Homo sapiens: one gene and its partner. The protein of the gene in region 1 purifies or fractionates together with the protein of each later gene. This does not show direct contact. Each region holds a gene or a part of one and is shown on either strand. Other genes may lie near its edges.

Evidence for each region.
Region 2: the proteins of ANKRD33 (region 1) and ALDH1A2 purify together in Homo sapiens (affinity purification with mass spectrometry; one large-scale study listed by BioGRID and IntAct). This does not show direct contact.

The regions. Positions count from the first base shown.
Region 1 is NC_000012.12:51,886,686-51,890,999, forward strand, and holds the start of ANKRD33 (photoreceptor ankyrin repeat protein), read left to right. Parts: upstream 1-1,417; 5' UTR 1,418-1,501; coding exon 1,502-1,646; coding exon of another isoform or gene 1,647-1,673; intron 1,674-1,882; coding exon 1,883-2,133; intron 2,134-2,381; coding exon 2,382-2,511; intron 2,512-2,686; coding exon 2,687-2,797; coding exon of another isoform or gene 2,798-2,895; exon of another isoform or gene 2,896-3,472; coding exon of another isoform or gene 3,473-3,474; exon of another isoform or gene 3,475-3,741; coding exon of another isoform or gene 3,742-3,804; exon of another isoform or gene 3,805-3,898; coding exon 3,899-4,314. UniProt on the Homo sapiens protein: Acts as a transcriptional repressor for CRX-activated photoreceptor gene regulation.
Region 2 is NC_000015.10:57,952,794-57,955,501, reverse strand, and holds the end of ALDH1A2 (retinal dehydrogenase 2), read left to right. Parts: intron 1-232; coding exon 233-305; 3' UTR 306-2,073; downstream 2,074-2,708. UniProt on the Homo sapiens protein: Catalyzes the NAD-dependent oxidation of aldehyde substrates, such as all-trans-retinal and all-trans-13,14-dihydroretinal, to their corresponding carboxylic acids, all-trans-retinoate and all-trans-13,14-dihydroretinoate, respectively.

The DNA of each region.
Region 1 (4,314 bases):
CAGGAGTTTGAGGCTGCAGTAAGCTATGATCATGCCACTCCACTCCAGCCCAGGTGACAGAGTAAGACCCTGTTTCTAAAAAGAAAAAAATAAAATAAAAACACACAAATCAGTACTATCTTTTTCAATGAAATGTACATTTTCAAGGATATACAAGTGCCAGTTGGTAAAGGGTGGAGGAGAATGGGATGTGGGGATTAAGGGTGAAAGAGAGAAACTAAAGAAAGTAAAACAAAACAAGAGAGAGGTCTTGTACAGTCTGATGATGGGAGTGATACCAATGGGGGAATATCATTGGCTCCATTTTCTACATCTGTGGACCAAGACCAATCCATCAAGCTTAATATGTAATATAAATATTAAAGAATATTTTGATAACAATTTATCATTATATTAACAGATCATTTAATTTAAATATTTCATATTTAATTTATCACACTGAAACTAATCTATTAAATTTCATACATCATAATTTCTGGCCAATCCCTCCCTCACTACTGCCTGCCGCACTTTGTGCCCCGACTGCCCACCTGCACTAGACACATAATGTCGGTACTCACAATTTCGTTTGTTTGTTTGTTTTGTTTTTTGAGAAGGAGTTTCGCTCTTGTTGCCTAGGCTGGAGAGCAATGGTGCGATCCCGGCTTACTGCAACCTCTGCCTCCCGGGTTCAAGTGATTCTCCTGCCTCAGCCTCCTGAGTAGCTGGGATTACAGGCGCCCACCACCAAGCCCAGCTAATTTTTGTATTTTTAGTAGAGACAGGGTTTTGCCATGTTAGCCAGGCTGTTCTTGAACTCCTGACCTCAGATAATCCACCCGTCTTGGAATCTCAAAGTGCTGGGATTACAGGCGTGAGCCACCCCGCCTGGCCACAATTTTTTTTTAAAAGGAGGTCTCCCTCTGTTGCCCAGGCTAGAGTTCAGTGGCGCGACATCGGTTCATTGCAGCCTCGACCTCCCGGGCTCAAGCGATCCTCCCACCTCAGCCTCCTGAGTCGCTGGGATAACAGACGTGAGCCACCGGGCCCAGCTCTATACTCATAATTTGACAATTATGTTTTTATTTCCCCAGAACCTCAAAAAATAAGTTCAGGTGACCCCCCTGGAGACCCCACCCCAGGGTCATTCTGAGAGTACCAACCCTATTTAATGAGATACCTGCATTCACTCACCCCCTCTCCCGCAACCACCCCTTCAGCAAGTCGCGCTCCACCCAATTAGGAGGGGCTTTAGGCTGGGCCTAAAAAGTTGGGCCAAGACCCCACGAGGCAGCATCTCCGCCGGCGTCCCCAAGGCTGAGAGTGGGCGCGTCCGTCAGGAGGAGTCGTCTTTGTGAGCCCGCCCCGGCGGGGAGGAGCTGCCCGGCTCAGGCCCCGCCCACCCGGAGGATCTTGGGGCTGGTCTGAGTCCGCTCCTGAGACGTGACCACCCGCCCCGCATGGGGCCCCAGTCCCAGCTGCTTGATCCGGCTCAGCCCCGAGGTGTTTGCAGCAGCTCTTTATGAAAGTCCAGCCATCTGTTACCTGCGTTGCTTCCTGGGGAGGGATAGTCCACCTGGAGGCATTCGGAGACCCAGTGATTGTGCTCCGCGGAGCCTGGGCTGTGCCCCGCGTTGACTGCCTCATAGATACCCTACGAACCCCAAGTAAGAAAAAACGACGACCCTCTCTCCGTGAGTCTCACTGGGGTGCTGACCTAGAGTGAACCCTGCTTGCTTAGGGCTCCTGACCCAGCGCTTGTCCTTTCTCAGGGTGGATGGGGCGAGACCCCTGCTGGGATAAATGTTTTCCCTGGGGCAAGGGCTGTGCACTTCGCAGCTGCTGGGTCCCCTCCCTAGGATCCAGGGAGACACTCACTACTCCTCTCCATTCTGTGTTTTAGATGCCAGCTGCATGAGAAAAGGGACTCACCTTCTGGTTCCCTGCCTGGAAGAGGAAGAGCTGGCATTGCACAGGAGACGGCTGGACATGTCTGAGGCACTGCCCTGCCCGGGCAAGGAGACCCCCACCCCAGGCTGCAGGCTGGGGGCCCTGTATTGGGCCTGTGTCCACAATGATCCCACCCAGCTCCAAGCCATACTGGATGGTGGGGTCTCCCCAGAGGAGGCCACCCAGGTGGACAGCAATGGGAGGGTGAGATGTCCTGGCTTCCCAGAACAGCTGGGGGCATCTTTGCATCCCCACCACACCGTCCTGGCCTGGCTCCCTGAGAGGGGTTCAGGGGCAATACCTCCTGCAGTCCTAAGGAGGAAGGGAATGGTTAAGGGCGGGTCTTCACGGGGTTTGGGGCAGGCTCTGGGACAGATATGGGTTTAGAGGGTGCAAGGGGCCCTGGAGTGGCCCAGGGGGAAAGCAGGGGATCTGAGCTGCCCCTCCCTCAGACAGGCCTCATGGTCGCATGCTACCACGGCTTCCAGAGTGTTGTGGCCCTGCTCAGCCACTGTCCTTTCCTTGATGTGAACCAGCAGGACAAAGGAGGGGACACGGCCCTCATGTTGGCTGCCCAAGCAGGTGTGAGGCTGCTGCACCCCACTTCCGACAGCCCCCTTTTGATGCAGACAGGGCCTCAGCCCCACCCTTGTTGCACGGTGTTCTACACCAGACTCTGTCATGCTGGGTGGAGGGCGGTTTGGGAGCTTCATCACCCCCTTTCCTGGGGACCAAGCTTACCCTTGCTGCCCTGCAGGCCACGTGCCTCTAGTGAGTCTCCTGCTCAACTACTATGTGGGCCTGGACCTGGAACGCCGGGACCAGCGGGGGCTCACGGCGTTAATGAAGGCTGCCATGCGGAACCGCTGTGAGTGCGTGGCCACCCTCCTCATGGCAGGTGTGCGGGGCCTGGACCGGGGTGTGTGGCCTCCAGTCCCTCCTCCAAGCCTTCCCACCAGACACTAAGTCAGCTGTGATTATTTGCAGAAAGGAGAGAGGTGGAGATGGGGGATCAATCTAGTTCACCTTCCTGGAGGGGGGGGCACATGATTTGGGCTTCGTACAATCAACCAAGTCCTGCTATTGATAGCTCAGACATTGTGTGTGGAGGTCCCAGGAAGGAAAGTGTGGGAGGGGAACCTAGCCCAGCTGGAAAATCTAACACGAAAAAAGGCTGGCATCTGGAACCAGCCCCTGTTCCTAGCTGAGTGGCTTCCCTCTTTGGGCCTCACCAGTATTGTGAGGGTGTTAGCTTTCCCTGGGACTACCTCCAACTCTGACAAGCCAGGCTTCCAGGGGATCCAGGGAAGTGTCGTTGAGGCCTGTGGCTCTGTGGGGTCGTTCAGGGGGAGGTGCGGTGAAGTCCACATTGTCCATGGAGTTGTTTGGGGGCCCTTCTTCCCCGCAGTGGGGCTGCCCTCTGCTGGTCACTCTGGGGGACCCCTGCCTCCATTTTTCCCTTCCCCACACACCCCACTGGGTTTGGAGTGAAAAAGGAGTGAATGAAAAAGGAGGGCGCTCTACACCCTTTCTTTTGTCTTAGAGTGACTGCTCCTCCCACAACCCCAAGATGGGAGAGGGAGATGGTGAGAAGAGAAGAACCAGGAGAGGGAACCAGCCGATCATCCCCACCCACCTGCCCCAGAGGGTGCAGCTCAGGCCTCTGCCTGTCCTGGGCAGCCTGCACCGCTGCTCTGCTCAGCTCCTTGGATTGAGGAGATCCCTATTCTGCCCTAGGTGGAGCCCCACAATAGGTCTCTCTGAAGTCTTTTCCCCTCTCTGGACCTAAGTGTCTTAATCTCTCTTAAACAGGAGGTTGCAACACTGGCCTCCCTGATTCCACCTTCAACAGGATGGGACTCTATGGCTTCGAATGTAACCCACATCAGTCTTGCTCCTAAAGAATCTGCCCTTCCACAAATCACCAACCCCTATCCCGCCCCATGTCACCCCCTGTGCTCCTTCCCAGGTGCTGACCTGACAGCAGTGGACCCTGTTCGGGGCAAGACGGCCCTGGAATGGGCAGTGCTGACCGACAGCTTCGACACCGTGTGGAGGATTCGGCAGCTGCTGAGGCGGCCCCAAGTGGAGCAGCTTAGCCAGCACTACAAGCCCGAGTGGCCGGCCTTGTCCGGGCTCGTGGCCCAGGCCCAGGCCCAGGCCCAGGTTGCCCCTTCACTCCTAGAACGGCTGCAGGCTACCTTGAGCCTCCCCTTTGCCCCGTCTCCTCAGGAGGGGGGTGTTCTGGACCACCTTGTGACTGCCACAACCAGCCTGGCCAGTCCCTTCGTCACCACTGCCTGCCACACTCTGTGCCCTGACCATCCACCTTCGCTGGGCACCCGAAGCAAGTCCGTGCCAGAGCTGTTAGGTACTGCCCCGCCC
Region 2 (2,708 bases), on another chromosome or scaffold:
TTTAAAAAACTTTAAAGTTTTAAAAAAACTTCTTTAAAAACTACTCATGAGATGACAGTTTCTCTGACCCTCAGAGGAAGGCTGGGCTGCGCATACGTGAGGAATTTTTACATGAACATCCCAGGACTTGCTGTTCGCAGGTGATAAACTGCACCTCCCCAGGACTCCCGCTGCACTCACATGCAGCTCCCTGGACTTCTGGTATCTGACCCGGCCCATTTCTGTGTTTCAGGGGAGAATTTGGCTTGCGGGAGTACTCAGAAGTTAAGACGGTGACAGTAAAGATCCCCCAGAAGAACTCCTAAGAAGGCCAAGAAGGAGGATGAAGCCCAGCCTGCACGTCTGTCCCTCTCTGCTTTCTCTGTAGGGCCCAGCTCTCAGGAATACAAAGTTGAGCCACGGTCCTTACTTAAAGATTGAAAAGATAACATGTAGGCCAGGCAGGTCACTGCACAACTAAAGCAAACCAGCTGGGTACAGTTTCTTGGCACTCTGTAAGGGGCCACCTTAATCATACCAAATATTGGGGAAAGTGGGATAAAGGGAGGAGGAGGAGCTAGCAGACACATCCAGTATCTCCTTCTGGAGCACAGGATGAAATAAGGGAGCTGTATTATTTCATGTCTTTGTCACAAAGAACTTTCCTCTCAAGGAAAGGTGACCTTTCTCCTGTCTTCATTTTCCTCCTTCCAGGCCCTCCTCGCTCACCCACCCCTCCCTCTCTTCCAAGGAGATGTCAGCTGAGCTCATTCTGGGGCAGATGTTTGGGCCGGGAACAATTTTTCAAGGTTGTAAAGCCAAATTATCATTTCATGTTATCCATTTCTTCAAAGCAAAACATGAAATGGTTTTAGCTAGAGTCAGACCAGAATGAAAATGCCAGGAGCTGGTACACTACAGATGTAGTAAGAACCTGGGATATTCCTGACCCAATCTGGTTTTCTTTTACCCATAAATAACATGAATGAAAAAAGATTGGGACAATAGAGACTGGAAGTCATCATGTGCAGTTCACCGCTTCTGAGCTTGCTGCAGTTTTGGGGTGTGTGTGTATTAGATTCCTTCTCAGTTATTCTGGAATAAGGCAAGGAGTGGGTTGTTTTTCATAGCTAGATAAGATCTTTTCCAAAGTTTTTCTTAGAACCAACCAAAAAACAATCCGAGTAGGCCCAAGAATTTGATAATGCTGGATGCCTTGCAGACATCATTCAGTTTCTAATATTGGGCAACAATTATTATTAAATGAATTATTTCTGTAGTTGGAATCTGTACCTTCTGAACCTCTACACCAATAACTGCTGCAGGTGTGATTTTGGTCTGTCACACTGTACATCTATCATAATGTGCCCTGTATCTATTGGCAGTGACCTTGGAAAATCTGGCCAAGCCTAGGGGTTTCCTTTTCCATTTGCCAAGTTCCATTGTGCCAGGACTGCCGTGCTCCACTGAGCTCCTCTGTCACACCCCATTCTTGCCCCTCACTGGGCAGGCCATGGCCTACAGCTTGCAGGGAGTAAAGCAGGCCCGCCTCCCTTTCTTCCCATCCACATACTCCTCTTCTGCTTTCCAGTGACTCCACCAGTTTGATGTGGGAAGTGTTAGCTTCCTTTCCTTCTTCCATCCCTTCTTCCATCTTTCCAGCTGTCAAATCCAATCCAGTCTCTAACCTAAATGCAGATCATTTATTTAAAAGTACCAAACATAACCCAGAGTATGTGGAATATGGGCAACATATATATAGCCTTCTGTATTTAACGATCTTCTGCTTCTTAACCGTACCAGTTTTCTATTTATAACTCTTATCTATCCATGATGTTTTAAAGTCTCCACTTGCTGTTATTTACAAACGACAGTGCATTCAGCAGCCCAGTGCCGTGAGCCCTGACAGATGCCGTATTTCTGAGTGCTTCCATGTGAATGCTGCCCTCCTGTAGCATGTGTCCAAGTGGACATAGCCACTAACCAACTAGTTACCTTTGGACTGCAACAAAAAATGTGAAAATGAAGATTTATTTCTTTTAATTTACTTAAAAAGAAACCTCTGTGCTAGCAATAAAGCATTTATATTGTGTACTCCTTGGGATTGTTTGGCTGTGTCTGTAAGTCTTTGGGTCATACTGAGTCTCTTTGGGTCCTTCCTCAGCTGCTGGGTTTTTCAGCTGTGTTGCCCTCTTGGGTAACTGAGCAGAAGCCTGCAAGGGTATTTTTACAGAATTCATTAAGGCAACTGGTAAATGGTATTAAGGTAAACAAAAACCTTATTTTCTGATGCTATTTAAAATCTGTGTGCATGTGTAGTTTAGCTGGCATGTAAGTATAACCATATATGAAATATATGAAATAACAAGTTTCCTTTAGAATAGCCTCCATGAAAACTAAAATGCAGAGCAGTCTATAGGGTCTGTTTTCACAAACGTGGACTACCCGCCGTGAGCTCACATTGCTGATGGCATTTCACAGTAGCTTTATTTTTACTTACTTACCAAAGTGAAATGAAGTCAGAGGCTGATAACCTGATGGAATATTTTTGCAGCTGTAAAAAGAAATCTGTAAATGGTGACCGTACTACTACCAAGATTGAGCTTGTTTTCTCTCAGTGTGTTCTCAGAGTTGCGCTTTTGAGGAGTGGTTCCCACCCTTTAGAACCGCACAGCTCCCCACCTTTCCTTCCAGCCCTTGGAATCTCCACCCAAGTTCCGATCAAGTGA